3 linked regions of the Homo sapiens genome follow. The protein of the gene in region 1 purifies or fractionates together with the protein of each later gene. This does not show direct contact. Each region holds a gene or a part of one and is shown in the gene's direction. Other genes may lie near its edges.

Evidence for each region.
Region 2: the proteins of PALM2AKAP2 (region 1) and EIF2AK4 purify together in Homo sapiens (affinity purification with mass spectrometry; 2 studies listed by BioGRID and IntAct, with this or other methods). This does not show direct contact.
Region 3: the proteins of PALM2AKAP2 (region 1) and LACC1 purify together in Homo sapiens (affinity purification with mass spectrometry; 3 studies listed by BioGRID and IntAct, with this or other methods). This does not show direct contact.

The regions. Positions count from the first base shown.
Region 1 is NC_000009.12:110,153,426-110,162,121, forward strand, and holds part of PALM2AKAP2 (PALM2-AKAP2 protein isoform 3 (PALM2-AKAP2)), read left to right. Parts: exon of another isoform or gene 1-328; intron 329-1,654; exon of another isoform or gene 1,655-2,778; intron 2,779-2,893; coding exon 2,894-3,072; intron 3,073-8,668; coding exon 8,669-8,696. UniProt on the Homo sapiens protein: Binds to regulatory subunit (RII) of protein kinase A. May be involved in establishing polarity in signaling systems or in integrating PKA-RII isoforms with downstream effectors to capture, amplify and focus diffuse, trans-cellular signals carried by cAMP.
Region 2 is NC_000015.10:39,928,770-39,937,579, forward strand, and holds the start of EIF2AK4 (eIF-2-alpha kinase GCN2), read left to right. Parts: upstream 1-5,345; 5' UTR 5,346-5,426; coding exon 5,427-5,570; intron 5,571-8,810. UniProt on the Homo sapiens protein: Metabolic-stress sensing protein kinase that phosphorylates the alpha subunit of eukaryotic translation initiation factor 2 (EIF2S1/eIF-2-alpha) in response to low amino acid availability.
Region 3 is NC_000013.11:43,889,710-43,895,934, forward strand, and holds the end of LACC1 (purine nucleoside phosphorylase LACC1), read left to right. Parts: intron 1-404; coding exon 405-564; 3' UTR 565-565; exon of another isoform or gene 566-570; intron 571-1,739; coding exon of another isoform or gene 1,740-1,893; 3' UTR 1,894-4,223; downstream 4,224-6,225. UniProt on the Homo sapiens protein: Purine nucleoside enzyme that catalyzes the phosphorolysis of adenosine, guanosine and inosine nucleosides, yielding D-ribose 1-phosphate and the respective free bases, adenine, guanine and hypoxanthine.

The DNA.
Region 1 (8,696 bases):
AAGAAGTGGTATATAAATCCGCTTGTTACTCCAAAGCCATTGAGTCTGTGATTCTGTAAGCCTAAAATGTTTTAATTCATATATTTTGGTGAAGGCATTTAAGCCCTTTCCTCTGATTCTCTATGGGAGATTCTGTCCCAATCCATAAGCATTTACTTGTGGTTGTTATATATATTTCATAATGGACTTACTGATTACTCAACAAACATGAATTGCCTACCTCGTGCCATGTACCACAGCTACTGCTGGGATCTGGCAATGATCAGACAGGCAAGGCTCTACCCTAATGGAGTTTGCATTCAAATGAATTAAGGGGATTCATAGACAGGTGAAACATACCCCCCTGTCCTCAGGATGACATTATAGCTTAATTGAGAAGACAAAAGCTTCAATAGCCAGATAAGATTTAAGTCAGTATGTGAAAATGGCCTTCACAGAAATATAAACAGGAGTTCCACTGTGCTGTGTGTGAAAGGGAGAAGCTAGAAGCAATGAATATAGGCTGTGCTTTCTAGGTGTTTAACTCTGGAAGAGTGGCTGGTGGGAAGTGATCTGGACACTTGAGAGGTCAACTGGAAAATGATGAAAATTAACCTGGTAATTGGTGTCTATTTCTGGTCCCAGAAGAGATGCAAAAATTTTATGCAGAATATGCATGAAATTGTTCATCTCACCCTATAGTCACATTATTCTTTGAGATTCCAATTAAGTGGTAGCTAGAATCATTAGATGCTTTCTGTTCTGAATATTAACCTTATAAATATTAACTTTGTCCTCATAATAACTATCTGAGGGTAGGTACCCTTATCATCATACCCATTTTACTGATGAGGAAACTAAGATATCAAAAGAGTAAGTAACTTGCCCAAAGTGATTTGGCTGCCAAGTCATGGATTCAAGCCCAAACCGGCTGGCTCCAGAGCTTACACGCTCACCACTGTGCTATATTGTTTCTTAAGCCTTCAATTAAAAAGTCAATCGGAATTTTCAGAGATACATACTAAGTGTGCAGGAGTGAGGTGACCTGAGGTCTGGGATTGGTTTAAAATAATTCAGCAAGTCTAAGGAAGGAAGGAAGAGCCAATTATGCTAAAATCTTGATAAATGTTTACTCTGGGTGATGTTTATAATGTTTATAGGGGTCATTATAGCATTCCCTAATTTCCGTAATAAAAAATAGGAACTGTTTCTAGTGAACTTGGAGATTTTGAAATACTTATTATTGTACTGTTAATATCAAAAGACTTTTCAGTTATCTGGGTAATTTAGATCAAAGCAACAAATTTCACTGTTATTAATGTAATGTGGCCATGAAATGCAGTGCCCTTTTCTGTATATTAAAACCTATTTTCCACCTAATCCCCAAGTGTAACAGCTAAATACCTTAAAAAAAATCAAGAAGGGTGTATCCTGCCAAACATATTTGATAGAATAGCAAAACGTTTGAGTTAGAAGAGACCACAAAGATAACTTCTTCCAAAATTCCCATTTAACCGCTATGGCAGTTAAAGCTAGGAGAATTTAAGTGATCAGCCCACGATTGAAATGGGAATATGAAACGATGATCTATAGTCAGTCACGTAGCCAAGTACTGGAAGAGCAGGAGTTAAAAACCTGGGTTTCCTGGACTCCAGGCCTTTGTATCTCTCATCAGAAGGAGGTTGTGCCAGTAAAGGGCTAAGCAGCCCATATGGAAATGTGGACACCAGGCTTCACTTGTGATTCCTGCTACATCAGGCAGTTGCCAAGTTAGAAGCCTGGGATGTAAGATGAAGAAAGGTGAGTCCCCTTCGGCTTGGAACTGGAAGAGGTCAAATGGCCCTTTCCCCTCCCAAACGGAGCCATGCAAGCCCCATTTATCTTGTGTGTTTTATCCACATTCCTTGTTCACAGGTTTTAGCCGCATCAACCACAAAGGGCATAATTGGAAAAATCATAATTGTTATACTTGAAGATACTTCTCAGAAGTGCATTTGGGGCTCTGTGTCAATAAACCCACCCCATGAAGGGCCAGAAGCCAGGGCCAGGCATTTCTTGGGAGGGAGGGATGGAAATGGTCTTGGTGAGGGTGCGTAGAGTCACCACACCACTGTTGAATTAATCACTGACCTCATCTCTCCATCCTGAGGATTCTTGGAGGACATTGCGAGAGCTAAAATCTCCTCATTCCCAAGGCTGGTGTGCACCTTTTCCATTGCCTTTGTTGGTGTACACTTCTTAAGGTCTGGGAGGCCTCAAACCCCAATGTTTCAGGACCCCAGCAGGTGAGGTAAATGAATAAAGCTGGCCAGTGTAAGACCGGGGCAAACTGAGAAGAACAAACTTCATCCTTATTCAAAGGTTTTATAACACTGGGCTGTCTGCACAAAAAGCCTGGGCAGGTCAGCAGACAATTGACTTCCTCTGCTATAGAGGATAGACCCTGGTGAGGAAAGCAGGAGGCCTGGGTACCATCACTGGCTCCCTATGACTTGAGTACAGCCTTCCCTTGGCAGAGCCTCAAGCGCTTTCATCTGTTAAGAAGTGGGTCTGTGAGTCTCCAAGGTGCCACCACCTCTGACAGTCTAATTCTGTGATCTGTGATAGAATACATATCTCAAAACAACTGGAGCCACTGTCGGTCTGTCCAACATATATTTGCAAAATGCGTGCTGTGCCTGTTTGATCTAACTGACTTTTTGGAACTTGGTGTCCTTGAGATCTTTGGATGGGTTTGTGCATTAACCTTAAGTGCTTTGATCCCTGTAATATAATAAAATGGCCTACACTTAACCATCATTCTGGTACCACTCTCTGTGTCAGAGGTTGTTGCTCTTTTATTTGCCAGTTTTCTTTCTAAAAGCAGTCATGAGCAGACAAGCTTAGAAAGGGTATTTTCTTCGTGTTGTTTCAGGGAAAATAGAGAAAGTCAAACCTCCTCCATCCCCCACCACTGAAGGCCCCAGCTTGCAGCCTGACTTAGCCCCTGAAGAGGCTGCCGGAACCCAGCGGCCCAAGAATCTGATGCAGACCCTCATGGAAGACTATGAGACACACAAATCTAAAAGGCGCGAGAGAATGGATGATAGTAGTGTAAGTTTTTCCTCCTTTCCTCTTTCACTTCTCTGAGCGCGGCCATCGGTGTGGCGTGTGGCATTCCAGTTCAGGCACAAATGTGTATGTCGTTGTCTGGTCAGCATTAGGGTTCCAGTATCAGTTTTCATATATGTGGTTTCACATGCCTGGAACTGGGTTTGGGTTTTTGCCTGTTTCAAAAAAAAATTGTTGATCTTGCAGGGAGCTGGTCCTTTGCTGCCAAGTATAGCTGGAGTCGACCAGCAAGGCTAGTGTGTAAGATGTTTGGTGCATAGAAAGACAGCATGCAAGGGCCACGCAGGGAGAAGGTTGCAAGTGCCCTGAAATCATCCCTATGCACCTGGGAGCTGATTTCTACCATTGCCCAGTAGAGATTTTATTTCTCTAGAAAAGGATGAAGATGCTGTTCCTTCAAAGCCGACACTCTAGGCAATCCCTAACAATGTTACAGTGCTTAAAAGACTGAGTGTGTTTGGGGCTGTTAACAAGCCCATGTGCATAGCTTGAAAGCAAAGAGCCAGTGAAAATGACAGTTGAAAACCACATGGCTACTCTGCTACACCCAAGCCCTCGGAACTTTGCACATAACGTTCAAATTAACTGTGAAGGAAGTCACATGCTCTGTGGTTTCTTTCTCCGGTTAGAGACATAGGAACTGTTGCTCTACACAGTCCCAGGAGCCTGGAGATCAGCCTCAGGGTTCATGCCAACCTCCTGTGGGTCTTCTGGCACCAGTCTCTTAGCACATATTGAAGTCATCACCTCCTCCCCTGACTGCACTTAAGTCACAGATAGCTTGGGTTGGTTGAGGATCCTACTGAGTTTACCTGAGACAGTCCTGGCTTATGCCTGTTGTGGTGTTGTGGTTATTAATATCCCCTTCAACTCTTTTGTTGTTGTTGTTGTTGTTGTTGTTGAGACAGGGTCTGTCTCTGTCACCCAGGCTGGAATGCATTGATGTAATCATGGCTCATTGCAGCCTCGACCTCCTGGGTTCAGGCAATCCTCCCGCCTCAGCCTCCTGAATAGCTGGGACCACACGCGTATGCCACCATACCTGGCTTATTTTTTAACTTTTTTGTAGAAAGGAGGTCTCATTATGTTGCTCAGACTGTTCTTCAACTCCTGAGCTCAAGGGATACTCCCACCCCAGCCTCCTAAAGTGCTGGGATTACAGACATGAGCCACTGCACCCAGCCTGCCTTTCACTCTTGAAAGTGTCCCAGTTTGGGTGATAAACCATCTGGTCACCTTAAACTTGAATGCTATGAAGTTCACAGTAAGAATTCCCTGCTGTTTTATTGCCTTTTATATCCTAGCTGGCTAAGTTAAAGGATTTCTGGAGTTGAAGCCCAGATGCTGAAAGTTGCTTTCAAAATATATGGCGGTAAAGAAAGGAAGAAAGCAAATGGATATCTGGCAGCCTGGCTTCTCACTTGGCATCTCCCAGGCTTTCCCTTTTGTTTACACCTGAACTGCGTGGAGCACTGGCTCAGCTGCTGTATTAGGCTGCAGCTATTCTACTGGGCTCTTCACTGTATTAGACAGTGGGATGATGCCCGGCCCTGGGTAGCTGCTGCAGACATTTCCACTGCTGAACCTCACTGTAGGGGAGCCAGCAGCTCCTTTCGTGAGCCTGCAGGATTTTTCCCTGGCTACTCAGTCACTTTCACCAGCCCTTCTTTGAAGCCCCACTTCAAAGGATAAAGTTTGCCTTAAGAATTTTCTGAAAGTTAAATCATTTTGAAACTTGGTGCTCTAGGTGTCTGGTTTCTTTTCTCCCAGTGACTCTGCTCTATACATCAGCAGTTTTGGTAGAATTTAGCCAAGTGGGTGCCCCACACTCTGATGTGGATGGGGAAGAACAAGTAGAACCACTTAGCATGTGACCCACGCGAGTGTTTGCTGAACACACTCTACTTGTCACTTGTGTATGTCTTTTGTGTTGGAGTGCAGATGATAGGGAAAAATACTCCATACAGAAGGGTAGAGGCAGTTCTCACTCATTTCGTAAAGGCAGAGGGCTGGAAGCTCTTTTGTGCACACGCTGACACTCTGGCAGCCACCTAACAAATGCCAACCAGGTTGAGTTTTTCCTCTGCATGAATGAAGCTGCTTGGAATCAGCGTTTTAATATGCTGATTGCCCTTCACTTACAAATCAAAGAGGCAGCCTCCTGTCTCTATATTTTCCAGTAAATAAACATTTTGAAAAAGAAAGAGACCTAACTAATTAAGCTGTTAATATCCCTGGATCTTGGATTCAAAGCCAAATGTTTTGCACTGTTATTGCTATTACAACAGAACCAAGTTTGCTGTTGTTGAAAATTCTTAGGATCAGGACAAAATCTACCAATCCACTATATGCTCATTTAAGAGACCCAAATCTAAAACAACAAATTCAGATTGCTTCTAAAGCAAAGATATGATCATCAGTCAGGCTTCAAATGAGAGCCTTCTCCTAGCCCTTCCAATTTAGGGGACCTTTTCTCCTGTATCTGTGTCAATCACTGGTGAATGTGTTGAAGTTTACCTGTAGGGATGAACAAACATTCATTTTTTTCCTAACCAATCTGTGGCCCCTTTTCCATTTTTTCTTTTTCTTTAATACCAGAAGGATAGTAATAGAGAGCAGATGGATTGCTGGGGGGATGAGTTGTGTAACTGGCTTACCTATCCGTAGAAGCATAAAGTTAATTCTCTTAAAGGTAAAGTAATTCTGGTCTCTAGCCTCCATTTACATACACTATTCTCACAGAGAAACATGGCTTCTTAGACTCTCCACCCTCTAAGCACCTCAGTGGCTCACACCTACACACCCAGCATCTCCCCATGTTATGCAGCATCACCCCTGGCACCTCCATTTGCCAATATTTTTTCCAGTAAGCCACTTGGCAGCATTTTGGCATGCCGTTTTGGAGATGATAAACCACACCTGAGAATCAATGCCTGTCGCGTGATTAGAACACAACCATGTGTTTGCCCATCGAAAGTAACAGTTATTTGTGAATTGAGCAAAAATAATTCTTATTTTTTATTCTTTTTAAGGAGAAGGCAGAGTTAAAAACAAGACAGGCGCTGATCATTGGAATGTGTATAAAGTGTGATATGTTAGACACAATGGTATCGAGGAGAGTGAAAGACAGAAGGAGAAAGATAGAATGTAGCTACGGCTGAAGTTTTGCTGAGTGAGAAAAACTGATCTTTGCCATCAAAACAAGTTCAGTGTCCCCCGAGCCCCCATCAGGGGTGTGGTGGCCTCTGGGGTCCTGTCCACAGGGACTCAGCTCAGGGCCCTGCTCTCTCCAGTTTTCCACTTTATAAAAAGTCATATGCAGAGAGGCCCCTGGCTTATGGGAGTCAGGGAGTGGTGTTATCCAAAGGTTGTCCCCAACCAGCCATATTTGTTACTAGCTCAGAACTTGAGCAAAGTACTCCCTTTAGTTGCCACAGTCTTCACCCACCTGGGCTGATTTCTTTGTCCTGTATATTGGAGTCACCAATGAGTATCTCCAGCCTCACTTATTAATGGACCTCTTGGCTAATTCTGAGGGCAGGAGGATTACCATCCCCACCCCTACCCACTTACCCAAGGCTGTTTACCAACCTATGCAAGGCCTTTGTGTGAATTAGGAAAAAAAACCACCCTTGTTCCTCTATGAAGATATGAAGATGCAGCCCTGCACCAGCCACACATTTGGGGGGTAGAGTAGGGGACTGGGCTTTAGTACCATTCATCCCTTTAGTCTGATGCTTTTGTGCAGTGCACACAACACACACCCAGATGCAGCAATCCTATTCATATTGTGGGTTTCTCTTATCTGGAAATGTTCTCTTATGTGGAAATGTCCACTTATCTGGGTCTCATACCATTTCTGCTCAGTCATGCAATTCATAATGGACTAGTGAATCCTAGTTTCCTAAAGGGCTTCTTGATGCCTTGCAAAGCGACTGCCTCCAAGGTGGGGTTGCCCACTCATGGACCTGGAAGACATTTGGATCAGTGGGCACAAATGATGGGCTATTTGGATGTTTTTCCTTCAGGCATGAAGAACCCCTCTAGGAAACTCTGATTCATTAGTCCATCCTGAGTGACATGACTGTATTTAGGCAAACAGTATTTTTCCAGCCAATTGTTTCCCTAACCTGACCTGAGCCTCAGAAAGTGAAGATGATGGGTCATTGAGTCAATGATGCTCATGAACATCTCGAGGGTTTGCTTTGCCTTTCTCAGTTGAAGGGATGCTGACCAGAGTCCAAATCACAGCCTCCTGGATGTTCAGCCCCATCTTTACTTTTAGCGCAGGATCTGCCCTCAGTGGGGTTTTCCAGTGTGCTCTCTCTCTCTTTCTCATCCCATGACTTCATTACTGAGAGGTCATCCAACCACTCTGTCTCATCTTAGAACAAGAGAAGACCTCGTCGGTTTTCCTGGGCTACGTCAAAGCTGAGAGTTCCTGGCACACATTACCCTTCCAGACCAGGACATGCATTGAGAGTTGTGGCCATACTCTCGCTCAGTGTGTGAAGGAAGCCTATCTGCCTCCTGTTTCCCCAGACGCTACAGGAAGCTCAGTGATGCCTTGTGCTTCCCTAACTCTCTCTTACGTTCTCACTCGTACCCTAGTGAAGATGCAAAGGAGAGAGAAGAGCTCCTGACTTGTCAGCTCCCAGCCATTAGCCCAATCATGACAGAACTATAATTCCTAAGTGCTACATATAAGAAGCAGTCAGCAATCACAGATGTGTGATCCCACCTAACTAGTCTATGGCTATCAATGCCCCAAACCAATAAATGCTTTAAATGCCCCAAGCAGTGTAAATGTACGCTCATTACCATAATTCTGGAGAGGGATGTCCCAAATTGGTCCTGCCATCTCATTTTCCATAGTCAGGCCATTTTTTTCTGTACTTTGAGTAAGACTTTTAGTCCCCTATAGGAACTAAAGGATCATTTCAGTTCCTAAGTGCTCATACTAATAATCCTATATAATCACCAGAAATTGCTATCAAAGGATGATCCCACTCTCAGGAACTTACCCAGGCCCCCAGGGTTCTGACGAGGGAGGCTGTGTGGTCTCCCTAGGCAAGACTACCCTTAGGCCGGTTTCAGAGAATCTGCCTCCACAAACCAACTGCTGTGATTAGGATCTTCTTTTAATGGAACAACAGGTTACAAGACGGCTTTGGGGTTCAGAGAAGCCTACGGGAAGAGAAAAGGCTATTTGGCTACAGACTCTAGCAAATCCAAAATGGCCCCCAACGACCTTGCTGGTGGGCAGCTGATTGTGTACAGAGGGGAAGGAATCTTGTTAATTCAAAGTACAGAAACTGAAAGCAACGTTTTGAATTAACAAAGTACGGCTTATCTGATATTTTTATTAGTGAACAATAGGGTATCTAGTTGCTGCAAAGAATAGACTTATAAATAAACTAATATCAGATGGAGAAAGTTTTGGCATGGGTGTAGAATGGCCTCCTGGTATTACTTCCCCTCCCATCCTCTTCTGGTGTGGTGCCTGTTCCCGGCTAGGGGGTGTTCTGTAAGTGTGTCACTGCCATGTACTAACCCTGGTCTTTTCCCTCTCTGCCAGTACACTTCTAAGTTACTGTCTTGCAAGG
Region 2 (8,810 bases), on another chromosome or scaffold:
TACATAAATATGTAAATGCACACAAACACCCACAAAGTAATGCAAAAGTCACTAACAATTTTTATTTCAGACTTTCTTGAGCAGCAGGAACAGTGTTGCCGCTCTGCTCCTGGCTGCTAAGTCACAGTATGCTGCAAGAACAAGTGCCTTCACCTCCCGGAAGAGGAGACGGGTTGGCTGGAAAAGTATTCAAAGAAGTAATGGCTGGAAACTTCCTATATTTGGCAAAAATCATAAGCCTAGAGATTCAAGAAGTGAAGCAAATTCTAAACAGAATAAGCCAAATGAAATTTACAAGATATGTCATAGTCAAACTTCTGAAAACTCAGACATAGAAAACTATCTTGAGGGCTGGGTGCAGTGGCTTACGCCTGTAATCCCAGCACTTTGGGAGGCCAAGGTTGGGGATTGCCTGAGCTCTGGAGTTTGAGACCAGCCTGGGCAACACGGTGAAACCCTGTCTCTACTAAAATACAAAAAAAAAAAAAAATTAGCCAGGTGGGGCAGCGTGCACCTGTTGTCCCAGCTACTCAGGAGGCTGAGGCAGGAGAATTGCTTGAACCCAGGAGGCAGAGGTTGCAGTGAGCCAGGATAACACCACTGCACTCCAGCCTGCACCACTGCACTCCAGCCTGGGCAACAGAGCGAGACTCCGTCTCAAACAAAAACAAAAGCAAAAACAAAAACAAAAAACAACAACAAAAAAACTATCTTGAAAGTAGCCAAAGAGGAGTGCCACATTACCTTTAGTGGGAAAACAATGTGAATGATAACAGATTTCTCACTGAAACCATGTAGGTCAGAGAGAAATGGCACACTTTTCAAGTACTGAAAGAAAATAACAGTTGGCCCAGAATTCTATATTCAATGAAAATATCCTTCAAGAATGAAGGGGAAAGGGATTGCAGTTTTAAAATTTGGGAAACAGTGACCAAAATCTGAGAGCTTCTCTTTGGAACATCAAGGGCAAGCAGCAAGACCAGGAGATGTAGTTTGGGGGAGCAAGAAGGACATATAGGATTAGAGACTCTTCTTTGGAAGACTGATCTAAAGGTTTAGGAAGTACTTGGAGAAGAAGGAAATGTTGGGGTGTCCTGATGAGTTGGTTTGTGAACCCCAAGTATACAAAGACATCCTTATGAGGCAGAATGTCTCAAGGACTTAGAGGTTATCTCCCAGGAGCCAGTCATGGGCAAATCTTTTCTTTGAAATATACGGAGTTTATACATCGCAAGCCTGCTTAGTTAACCCCGTATTGCACATACAGCAACCAAATGCAATGTGTGGACCTTGTTTGAATTTTGATTCAAACAAACCACTGTAAACAAAACAAAACAAAAAAATGACCTTTTCCTTTTTTCATTTAACAGTTTATTAAGGTATAGTAAACATATAACACATTGCATATATTTAAATTGTACAGTTTGATAAGTTTTGATATATGCATATACTTGTGACATGATCACCACAATCAAAATAATGAATGTATACAGACATCACTCCCAAGAGTTTCTTCTTGTTCCACTTTAATCCCTCCACCTGGCTCTTCTATGTCCTCCCTATCCCCAAGCAACCACTTATCTTCTTTCTGTTACCAAATTTGTATTTTTCAGAATTTTATGTAAATGGAATTATGTAGTGTGTACTCTATGTCGGCCTTCTTTCATTCGGCATAATTATTTTGAGTTTGTCTATGTTGTTGCTGTATCTATAATGTATTTCTTTTTATTGCTGAATAGTATTTCATTGTATTGATATACCTCAATTTGTTTATACTTCAATATGTCCATCTTGTGTTGGTGGGCATTTGGTTTGTTTCCAGTTTGGGGATATTACAAATTAAGGTGCTACAAATATTTACATACAAGTCATTGTATGGACATACGCTTTTGTTTCTCTTGGGTAAATGCCTGGGATGGAATTGCTGTTTCATATAGTAGGTATATGCTTAAGTTTTTAACTAAAATGGATGATAGGCCAAAAGGTAAAATCTAACACTATCTAGATGAAGACATAGAAGAAAACCTTTTTGGCCTTGGGATAGGCAAATATTTCTTAGATATGACTGCAAAACATAATTCATGTAAGAAAAAAATGACAAATTAAATGTCCTCTAAAGTAAGAAACATGCTCTTTGAAATACAGTTAAGAGAATGAAAAAGCAAGCCACAGACTGGGTGAATATTTTTGCCTGTCACATATCTGATAAAAGACATGTCCGGCCTGGTGCAGTGGCCTACACCTGTAATTCCAGCACTTTGGGAGGCTGAGGCGAGCAGATCACGAGGTCAGGAGTTCAAGACCAGCCTGGCCAACATGGTGAAACCCCGTCACTACTAAAACTACAAAAATTAGCTGGGCGTGGTGGCATATGCCTGTAATCCCAGCTACTCGGGAGGCTGAGGCAGGAGAACTGCTTGAACCCGGGAGGCAGAGGTTGCAGTGAGCTGCGATCGCACCACTGCACTCCAGCCTCGGTGACAGAGTGAGATTCCATCTCAAAAAAAAAAAAAAAAATACATGTCCAGAATATATAAATATTTCTCAAAAGTTAATAAGAAAACAAAAACAAAATTTTTAAAATGCACCAAAGATGTGAATAAAAACAGAAGACAGACGATATATGAATGGAAAATAATCACATGAAAAGATGCCCAACATCATTAATCATTAGGATAATGCAAGTTAAGACACACTGAGATACTGCTAAGCACCAATTACTATGTTTAAGATTAAAAACATTACAATACCAATTACTGGCAAAGAGGTAGAACAACTGGAACTCCCATAAACTGATGGGAATATAAAGTGGTACAACCACTTTGGAAAACACTTTGACAGTTTCTTATTTTTTTTGCTTTGAACTTTGACTTTAAAATAATTTCCAACTTACATAAAATTTTCAAGTCACTCAAAGAGCTCTCATATATCCTTCACCTAAATTCTCCAATGTTCAACATTCTACATTTGATTTAGCATCATCTCTCTTCTTTTTCCTGAATCATTTGGGAGCTAACTGCATATTTAATACGTCACTGCCCCCTTAATGCTGCATTTGGTATAATACTGCCATGTAATCCACAGATTCCTTTCAAATTTTGCTGTTTGTTTTAATTATATCTTTTATAGGTCCAGCGTCCAGTATAGATTCTAATTTTACACAATGGAAATATTTGAACATAGATTAGGTATTAAACGATGCTAAGAAATTGTTAATTTTTTTTTAAGAGACAAGGTCTTACTCTGTTGCCCAGATTGGAGTGCAGTGGTGCAATCACAGCTCACTGCAGCCTTGGACTCCTGGGCTCAAGCAATCCTCCCACTCAGCCTCCTGAGGGTGGGACTACATGTCACCTCGTCCAGCTAATTTTTTATTTTATTTTTTGTAGAGATGGGGCCTCGCTATGTTGCCCAGGCTGGTCTCAAACTCCTGGCCTCAAGTGATCCTCCACCTTGTGCTGGGATTACAGGTGTGAGCCACTGTCCCTGGCCAAAGGGTTACATTTTTAGGGTATAAGATTAGTAATATGTTATGTTGGTTCCTTTTCTAGTTAGAGATATATCCTTAGGTATTTATTTTTTAAAATGATATGATTGAGACTTAAAAAAAACACTCCTGAGGGATGGAGAGAAGAGATGAAATAAAATTGACAAAATATCTATGGTTGTTGAAGCTGGATGATGAGTACAGAGGAGTTTACTTCTAAGTATGTTTGACATTTTCATAAATATAGGTTTAAAAGAATTTTTTTAAAGACCAATAGAGAAATGGAGTAATTTTAAGGATTAGAGTGCAATGGCCATATTTGCAATTTAGAAACATTACTCTGGCTGCAATAGGAAGAATGGCTTAATGTGGGGCAAGAATGAAGACAGTGACTAATTAAGAGAGTTATTGAAGTAACCCAGGGAATTGGTGACAGTAGCCTGAACTAAGTTAGTGGCAATGGGTTAGAGTGTAGTGGATGGACAGAAGTGGTGACTATTTGGATGTGAGTTGAGAGAAAGGGAATTCAGAATCACACTCAGTTGAATGGTGCCATTTACCTAGTCAGAGATCACTGGAGAAGGAACGGGTCTCCAGCAGAGGGAAGATGATGATTTAAATTGGCCTTGGGTCAAGCTAGTGCATTTGTGTTATCTGGCCAGAAATGAGTGGATAGATGGCAGCAAGGAATTTACACAATCATTATTTAGTGAACAGTGGAGGAGTAAGCAAGGTAGACAGAAGAAACGTCACTTAAACCTAACTTGGGTTAGTACAATAGGATTATTCGAAATGGACATGCAGCATTAGTAAGTTACTGAAGATGAAGTGCAATAACAATGTCTGGGTAGACAGGTTATTATTTTATAAACTTGAAAAACGACGACTTGAGGCAGGATATAACACAAAGACTCCCTAAATTCACACTGAGTGAACTGGGAAGGGAACATGATTCTCTTCATGGGAAGGTAGCTCATAAAGATGCCTGAGTGGAAAGACAGTTTTCAATTGAATTTGCAAGGTGGTAGTGGAGATCCCCAAAGCTGGGGAATGTAGAGACAGAGAACATAATGAGGGTGTTGAATCTGTGGCTCAGAGAATAAGTTTGGGGGTACTAAAGTGGGAGGAAGGAGGGTGGGGGGGGTCACAATTTTTACTCCCGGTAGTCTTGTTCTGGGAAGGTACAAGGTGAAATTAGAAGTGACCTCAGAACCCATCGACGTCTGCCCTTTAAGAGTTTCCCGGCCGGGCGCGGTGGCTCATGCCTGTAATCCCAGCACTTTGGAAGGCCGAGGCGGGCGGATCACAAGGTCAGGAGATCGAGAACATCTTGGCCAACATGGTGAAACACCATCTCTACTAAAAATAGAAAAATTAGCCGGGCGTGGTGGTGCGCGCCTGTAGTCCCAGCTACTCTGGAGGCTGACGCAGGAGAATCGCGTGAACCCGGCAGGCGGAAGTTGCAGTGAGCCGAGATCGCGCCACTGCACTCCAGCCTGGGGAACAAGAGCCGAAACTCTGCCAAAAAAAAGAAAAAAGAGTTTCCCGCACTAGCCATGCCAGGGTGGAGAAGTTCCAGCAAGCACTTCTGTTAAAGATACTTGTTTCGTGAAAACTATACAATGTGGCGTTTTCATTCCTATCTGTGATTCATTTCTTAAGTTCGTGGAGTTCCTTTGCTCCCCTTCCCCCAGCAGGATGTGGGCAAAGCTGTCCCCCTGCCTTCTTCCTTCGCCTGGGCTTCTGGAGCCTCCGGAGCTAGCTCCCGGCGCGGAGCTCCGCCTACGGCCCGTCCCCGGCGCGGAACCCCGCCCACGAGCCCGTTTCCAGCGTGGAACACCGCCCATAGCCCGTCCCCAGCGCGGAGCCCCGCCCCGCAGGCTGCCGGGGGCCCACCGCCGCCCAGGCAAGGCCGCCCTGCCTTGGGCGCAGCGCTGCCATGGCTGGGGGCCGTGGGGCCCCCGGGCGCGGCCGGGACGAGCCTCCGGAGAGCTACCCGCAACGACAGGACCACGAGCTACAGGCCCTGGAGGCCATTTACGGCGCGGACTTCCAAGACCTGCGGCCGGACGCTTGCGGACCGGTAGGAACGTGGCTTGTCAGGCCCGGGCTGGCGTGCCCTGGCCTCCCCGGGCCCTGGGCCAAAGCCCGGACACTTCCAGATTGGGCCGCCGCTTTAGGATCCTGCAGTCTTTTCATCCCTTAGGTTCCACCCATGCTCACTTTAGTCCTTGCACCTGCAGCTGGTCTGCAGAATCCCACCTAGGCCGAATTCTTCTACAGTCCTTTCCCCATGATTTCCCCAGAGGAATCCCCCTGGATTCCTCCCTCTTACCTGGCACTGCTTCTTATTCCTGCCTACATCCCATAACATAACTGCCTCCTTCCAACCTTGTCCTTTTTCCCCTCTGAAAGCCCTTGCGGATGATACCACAGCAATTCATACGCGCCCCTTGCTACTTTGTTCTGAGAACGCTTTTTGGGCTCTCGCACAGGCCTTACGTCCTCAATCAGAATTCTCAAGTCTCATCCATGCATTCAAATCTGCACGCCACATAATTCCCTCTGTACTCCCCAGGCATCCTCACTGTGTTTTCCGGTATGGAGGAACTTTCCATACCTCTGCACCTTCCTCTAAGACATTTAGCTCAGAATAAAGCACACATTCATCTTAGCTGTAGTAGAGAGAGGGTTCTAGACTGAGTCTAGAGAAGGAGTGTCCAATCTTTTGGCTTCCCTGGGCCACACACAAAATACACTAACACTAAGGATAGCTGATGACCTAAAAGAAAAAAAAAATTCGCAAAAAAACCTCAATGTTTTAAGAAAGTTTACGAATGCGTGTTGGGCCACATTCAAAGCGGCCCATGGGCCTCGGGTTAGACCAGCTTGCTCTAGCTCTAGACCTTTTAAAATGGCATTTTGTTTAAAATAATATTTTGCCTTTTTGTCTGGAAATTAAGGCACGTTATAAAGTATTTATACTGACAGTTTTTTCCCCATCCTTGAAGAGTTGATCTACCAAACTATTTCTGAATATTATCATATTATCATTTAAAACATAGTTCTAACTTCATCTGCTTTTTTTTTTTTTCTTTTTGAGACAGGGTCTTGCTCTGTCTCCCAAGCTGGAGTGCAGAGGCATGACCACGGCTCACTGCAGCTTATTCTCAAGCAATCCTTCTGCCTCAGCCTGTCAAGTACCTGGGACTACAGGCACATGCCACTACACCTGGTTAATTTTTTTAATTTTTTGTAGAGACAGAGTCTTGCTCTGTTGCCCGGGCTGGTATCAAGTTCCTGAGCTCATGCAATCCTCTCACCTTGGCCTCTGAAAGTGCTGGGATTACAGGTGTGGGCCACCGCGCCTGGCCTCTTCATCTGCTTTTAACTTTGGCATTTCACAACATCTGCTCTATCTACACATCCAGGATTTCCTCAAGAAATACCATCTTCTGGAGCTATCAGGACAAAATATTCTCTCTCAAACTCAGGGTGCTTCTTCCTTCATTAAATATTTGTTTTAGGCATTAGGAATACAGCTGTGGGCAAAACAGACAAAAATCCTTGCCCTCAGGGAGCTTACTTTTCTAATGCTTAATAATATGAAGTTATTTTTAACCTGAAATGGTAAAAATATAAATTATTCCCCTTAACATGACAGAGAAGTTGGTGACTGGGGAACTTCTATCTTCCCAAACCTTGAGAATCAGGAAGTAGGCCCAAGAAGCAGCCAAAATAGGTGTCTCAAAGTGTACATGGGACTCAACACAAAGCTCCTAAGGCTTCATTCTGAACTAGTTTGTTTACTTTATACAAGCTTAGTTGTCTGCTCCTAGGGCTGCAGAAAAATGGAAGAGAAAAAGCAACTTCTTTTAGGTAGGGATATTGATAACCTCAAGAATTTATAGCTGGTGGCTTTCATAACAAGATGGAATACTAGACAAACCAAAGCAAAAACTATAGAAGGCAGGCAGAAGAATTTAAATAGCTGTCTGTGGCCTATTGTACACCGGGCAAATGGCCTCAACACATTCATAGGACTGGCAGGCAAATAATTGATGGTCTCAAGGATGAATCAGAGTTTAGTCATTCAACAAGCACTTATTATCACCTGCTATTTGCCAGGGAAAAGTGATGCAGGTCCAAAATCCTTTATCCAAAACTCTTTATTGAGAGGGAGTTTCTCTCTGTCGCCCGGGCTGGAGTGCGGTGGAGCAATCTCGGCTCACTGCAACCTCCACCTCCCAGGTTCAAGCGATTCTTGTGCCTCAGCCTCCTGAGCAGCTGGGATTACAGGTACCCGCCTCCACACCTGGCTAATTTTTGTATTTTTAGTAGAGATGGAGTTTCATTATGTTGGCCAGGCTGGTCTCGAATTCCTGACCTCAAGTCCTCCCGCCTCGCCTCCCAAAGTCCTGGGATTACAGGTGTGAGCCACCGTGCCCAGCCTTTTATCCAAAACTCTTGAGACTTGATGGGTTTCAGAATTCAGAAGTGCTTCTGTTCACGTTTATGTGTGCACATTCCACACATTACCTAATACCTTCCTCAGTGTCTGGGGCAGCATCGAAAATCAAACACAATGAAACATAGAAATACTCAAATTTCACACTGAACAAATAAACACTATAACTAACCTCATGTCAGTTCAGGCTAAATTTGCTGCCAATAAATTCAGGTTAGATTTTTTTTTCAACTTCTTTTAGTGGGGATGTGTTGTAATATAAATTTCAGTTTAGTAGCATATGTATATCATTTATAAATAACATTTTGAGGTGCATGCTAAAAACTTTTGCATTTGTAAAAAGTTTAGACACTGCTAGTTTAAAGTATCTATAATTTATAGATAGTTACAAATTACTAACTTATTTTGGCTAGCTTTCCACAGCAGCAAAAGGTCTGCTCATTTATAATTTGATAGCTTTTGGAAACATCCCTCCAAAAAACTTGCTTCAATCCCTGGATCCCCCAGTAGTGTATGGTGGTGTTTGTTTTCCTTTATCTTCAACAATACTATATATGTTAGACTTTTTCATCTTTGCCACATAAATGAAACATATCTCATTTTAATTTTTATTTATTTATAAATTATCTAGAACACCTTTGTTTACAAACCATTGATTTTTCTTTTTCTGTGAACTGCTCATACTCTGGTTTATTTTTCTACTCTGTGGTCCATTTTCTTGTTTATTTGTAAGAGCTAAATATCTTAAGAAAACTAGCATTTTGGGTCATATAATGCATATATTTTTCTCCTAATTATATGCATTTATTTACGTAATTTATGTGATTTAAAAAATGTTGATAGAGTCAAAATGAC
Region 3 (6,225 bases), on another chromosome or scaffold:
GAAAAATCTGGCTAATAGAAGGAAAGGAGATGAAGGGCCAGATGACTAAAAAGCATACTCTGGCTGAGCCAGGTGAATTTTGCCTGATATCCTGGTAACTTTTGTAGACATTTCTTCTTAAATAAGCACTTGATTTTGATTATAAAATTCTGTACCTAGATTATGTCTATAAGACAATATGGAAGGTTGTACTGTGCATATATGAACTTAGGTGATAAATGCTGATAAAGTGTAGCATTTTTTTCCCTGACTAGTCCATGTTCTGTAAGTGAATAACAATATACATTGTTCTAGGTACATCTTTCCTGGAACTTTTTCATGCCAACATCCATACTTTTTTTCATATTGCTTTGGCTATTGGGAAAATAAACTCTTGCTCTCTTTTGAAAAATATTTTTCCTAAGGATTCTTCTAGAACAGGGAGGAATTCTTCCACAGAATATTCAGGACCAGAACCAAGATCTCAACCTCTGTACATCTTGCCATCCTGACAAGTTTTTCTCCCATGTCCGAGATGGCCTTAATTTTGGTACACAGATTGGCTTCATATCAATTAAAGAATGAGGTACAGTAGGTTTTCTCTCCTCTCTCCGTTTTTCCTCTCTTTCATCCCTCTCTCCACTTCTCCCTCCCTTTCTCTTTCTTCCTCTTTTAGCCTATTCCTCCCCTTATTTAAAAAAAAAAAGTTAATTATGTTAAACTTTACTCCTTTATTCCTACAGGGAGAATGATGTTTCTACTTTTTTAGTGATGTAATAGTGGTAGCAACGTTCATTTCCAATAACACTCTATTATGAAGAGCAGCCACTCCTTTTCCTAGTTAATGAAGAATAATTAGGCAGGCTTATGTTAAAAGTATAAAAATAAAACAATTTAATCTTTAAAAAGGTATGTAAGTATTTCCTTTCTCTCTACTATGTACTTGATATCTGTACATTCCCTATCCTCACATCCTTATAACTTTCATGTTATTTTTGAAAACAAATCTTTGCATAAACATTCTGAATTCTAGAATCATAAGAAATTCTCACAAAGAAACTAGCTTGATTTTCAACTAGATTTCCAAATGATTATCTGCAGTTGGAGTTGCCCAAATTTTTATTTTAAAATGACAGTAAGTAGTTTAGACTTTGTGGGACATACAGTATATCTCAGCTACTCAGCTTCGCCATTGTAGAGGTAGAGCAACAAGAGATACTGACAACATAGAGATGAATGAATATGTCCGTGTTCCAATAAAACTTTGTTTACAAAAATCAGGCGAGGGAGCCAGGCACAGTGGCCCTGCTCCTGTAGTCCCAGCTCCTCGGGAGGCTGAGGTGGGAGGACTGCTTTAGGCCAGGAGTTTGAGTACAGCATGGATAACATAAACCCTGTCTGTAAACAGTAAAATAAACAGGTAAGGGGCCAGATTTGGCCTATAGGCTATAGTACACTGACACATGATCTAAAGTCATACAGCAAGACTGAGTGTAATTTTCTTAAAATAGTATTTATTAGAGATGGTTTTGTTGGAATTATACAAAAATATTTCATGGCACTGATTTAGCACTGCCCCTATAAGATATGTGTAATTTTCCCTAAGGTTACTTCTAGCTGAATTAATATTATTTTTTACTCTTTACAATGTTTTTAGCTCTTTAACTTACAGAAAAACTTTAATAGACTTCATGACTCTTACCTTGATATTCTAATAACACCAGTAAGCGTCTCATATTTGATTTCTATGTATTTTACAGATACTTGACTGGATTTTTGTATAACTGCTTCCTGCCTCCTTCCAAACTGACTGCAAGAGAGAAATTTAGCTGTTTGATTTACTTAAAACCAAATGGATTACAATGGATAATTCATCTTTTGGGTATATTTTTACTATTATTCAAAGCCAAATGATTTTCATTTAATTGTAATAATAACTGACAAAAATCAGTATGTTGTAGCTAATATGTTTTATGCATGAGAATTATTCTTAAAGTTTGTTCTCCCTGTTTATTACACAGATCAGGAATAGATTTGTTCAGTTCAGTATTTATTGGATACCCTCTATTGGTCAGGCATTGTGTTAAGCATATGTGAATCAAAATGAACACAACTTTTTCCTTTGAGTCTGATACAGTGAAGGAGATAAACACTTCTACAACTTAAATTTAATTTTAATAGCAGTAGAAGAGAACATAAGGAATAGAGGTTAATTTTACCCAGAAGCAGGATAGAGAAAATATTACAGAGAAAATCACATATCACATGGGCTCGAAAGATGTAGAGGTTTTTGACAAATGAAGAACAACCATAACAGGTAGAGGGAACACCATGAACCAGGGCATGAAACTGAAAGTGCATAACATATTCTAGAGAGAGAAGGGTGTGGGCATGAGTTAGGGCTGGAAAAACAGGTTGGAAACAGATAAGTAAGGGTCTCAAATGCAATGTCAAAGAGCTTGCAGTTTATTTTCCAGGCAATGAGTAGGCAGCCAAAAAAAAAAAAGTAAGGATGTTTTTTTTTTTTTTCCCATGGCATCATATTTAAGAGGATGGATTTAAATTGTGTGAGACCAAAGCATAGAGACTAGATAAGAGGCGATCAAAATATTTCAAAAAGAAATAATGAAGATCCAATGAAGGAAGTGGAAATTAAAATAGGGAAGAGAGTAGATGGATTAGAGAGACATTTAAGAGATGGAATCAATAGATCCTGTTACTAGATAATGGAAGTAAGAGGTGAGGAAGAGTGGAAAAGTCATTAATGACTCTAAGATTTCTGCTTGGCTGCTTACCAAGATTGGCAACAAAGGGAGGGAGAAGGTTTGGAAAAAGAGAGAAGGATAATGAGTTTGACTTTACATAGAATGAAGGGCATCCAGATAGAAATCTTTGGTTAATAATTAGAAATATAGACCTAGAAATTAGGAGGAAACCTGAGACAGAGACAAATATTTCAAAGCTTACAATACAGAGATGATACCTGATTCTATTGGAGCAGGTTTGATCATCTAGGCAGAAATTAGGATGAGAAAAAAGGAGATCCAATAATACAACCTTATAGTCACAGAAGTAAGAAAAAAAGGGTAGTTGTTTTGAAGAAGCCAGGATAGGTGTGGAAAGTACTCAAAAAGAAATCTTCAGGGATAAAATAAAGTGATAATTTAAAAGAAATCAATGGATTAAACATATTGAAACTGTTCTATAGGCAGTGGTCATTGAGTCAGCTTTCAGTGCATTAGGAAGAAGATGCATAGGTGTCAACTCTTTTCTGACAGCATTTACTAGAGAAGAGAAAAAGCTGGGGACTACATCTTCAAGGAAGGGACTTTTTTTGGATGAGCAGTTTTGAGTGTGTTTGTCAGTTAAAGAGAGGAATTAGGTTAGTTTTCATTTGGGAAAAATTGTATATATATTTAATGTAAGTTATCACATTGCATCTTAAAAATATTCTTATTTAATACATATATTTCCTACATGTATATGTGGTAGCATGATAGCAAATAACATTTGTTTGGTATTTCCAAAGGACTTTCATGTACATTGCCTCATTTTACCTTTACAGCTACTCTGAAATACACAGGCATTATCCCTTTTATTCAGCTGAGAAAACTGAGCTTCATTGAGGTGGAGGTCAAAAATCACAAAATTTGTGATGAATTAAGATTTGAACATATGTTTTGTGACTCCAGTTTTCCTTTCAGATTTTAAAATTAATTAAAGGGATCTTCATTATACTTTTATTGTTAACTTTTTGTTAACATAATTTATTCATACATTCAGTGAAAATTTTGTTGAGGTACTGGGACAGGTTAAAAAATACAGTTGTAGCCCTCAGGATATTTAATATCCAGTGAAAAGTGACAGTCAGTAAACCAACAATCTCAATACTTTGATATATGTTGTGAGGTTGTGATAACCGATTCTTGTTTAGTTTAATTCTATATCTCCCTTAGACCAGTGTTAAATTTAAATAAAACACCTCATTTTTTCCAATTCAGGGAAGGCACTAAACATAAAGCATAGGATAGAAATGTTGAACTCATCCAAAATATTATTTTGTTTAATGAAAATGATGAAGATTAAGGAATACTTCCATGTATTGAGTAAGGTTGATAATTTTCTAATTCTTCACTGTGCATTATTTTGTTTGAAGTTGGTAAATTTGGAGTATCCTGCAGACACATTTTGCTTTATGTACTACAACATTCTACAACCAAATAAAAATTATTTTGATTATCTGATTTTGGATTATCTCTGCCAAAGTATATAATGAAAGGTTGTCTCCTTGCTGCTTTACTGAATGAAAAGTGTTGATTTAGTAACTCCAAACTATCAGGTTATTAAATAATCATCTTATTGTGTCTACAAGATAGCTGTCACTCTCACATATTTGTATGTAGGTTTCTAGGACTTTTGGGGTACAACAACAAAGATTTCTAGTAAGTTTTGTTTTTGTTTTTAATTTTATTTTAAATTTATAAATAACAATGGTACCTATTCATGAGATACATAATAATGTTTCCATTCATATAATGTACAGTGATCTGACCAAGGTAATTAGCATATCTATCATTTCGAACATTTTTCTTTGTGTTACGAACATTTAATATGTTCCTTCCAGCTATTTCAAACTATATAATATACTATTGTTAACTATAGTTATCCTACAGTGGTATAGAACACTAGAACTTATTCCTCTTAAAGTTTTGTTTTTAATCTAAGCACTGCTACTAACTGCACATAGGAAATATTGATTGCTATTTTATTAATAAGGGGAATTAAGTTTGTAAGTCAAATAAACATTAATGAAATACCTTTTTGAAAATACTATCAAACTAAAACTTACTGGGCCATTTATCCAACTGTAATTTTAAATTGTGAAAAATAGCACAGTGGCCAAATATGCTATACCCCAGTGCTTTATAAAACAAATAAGATGACCTTACCACTAGGAGGTGGTATTTCAACAAGTAGCTCTACTATTATTTCTTGGTATAAAGTTGAACTAATCTTTTTTTTTTTTGAAAAAAATCAACTTTATTTTTTCTAGGTTTAAAAAAATAGAACCAGCTATTAATTTTTGTTGAGAAAATGCATCTTTTGGTGTTCACATCTAAATTTCTGAAAAGGTGATCTGGTTACTAAAATCATCCCAAATACATTCATAAACCAGATCCACGTGTGACCAGCCCTTTACAAAAATTAATTACAGTTGCCACAGCCTTTACATTCATTCTTATCACACGTTACAACATGCAGATAACACAAAGAAAGGTCAACAAGCTGAAGTAAACATTACAGCATCAGGAAAATGAAAACCCATCTGTATAAAATAAATACAATTTTGTAATAACTGTAAAGAAAATGAAAGCACTTAATAAAAATAATGGCAGTTGAATGTATAACTGTCTCATCTCCCAATCATAAAATAAGTTACTGTAAAATGCATAGACTCCTTACACTTAAAGAATTTGTGCATCACAGTCATGTGAAGTTGAACTAATCTTAAACTCTGTATTTTCTTGTGGAATAAAAAGGGAGGGGAGGACGCATTTAAAGTTAGTGAATGTATTGCTCTTACTTTAGGTATAACGTGGTAGTTCAAGTAGATAAAAGCATTTAGGAACCCTCACCCACTTCTATCTCACTCCTACAGAATCTCTAGTAATTGCTTTTCTGTAAGTAGATTTTTGGGAGAAACTCAGAGAAGCTTATTCTATGTAACATGACAAAACAGAAATAATATCTATATATTCAGCAGCTGGAAGGAAAGATAACAGTGACATACGAGTTATATGCTTTTATATCTCAAAGTGGGATTTGATATTTATTTTTACTTGATTGTCCTAGAGTTATACTTCCAATGTATCCATCTTACTTTTTGTGTGAACTCTTAGAGAATGCTACCAATCTATGAAAGTTCAGCACTTTAAAGAAAGCATTACTCAGTTATTGTGTGTTATCGTGTTTGTATGCATGAGTCTTTGTGTATGTGCTAAATGGCAAATAAGAAATATGTGTGTTAAATATGACACATAGCCTTTTTGCCCTAGCTAATATAAATTAACACACACATAACACATTGGATGCAGTAGAATAATAGATTTCTCTCTATAGATTTTTTAATAAATTATGCAGTAAAGAATGGAAAGCATGGTCCATATGCTTACTGGATGTGTTTGTGTGAACCCTGATCTAGGGCACGTGCATTTCCATTGTAGGCAGTGTTTTTAAAGTTTACTT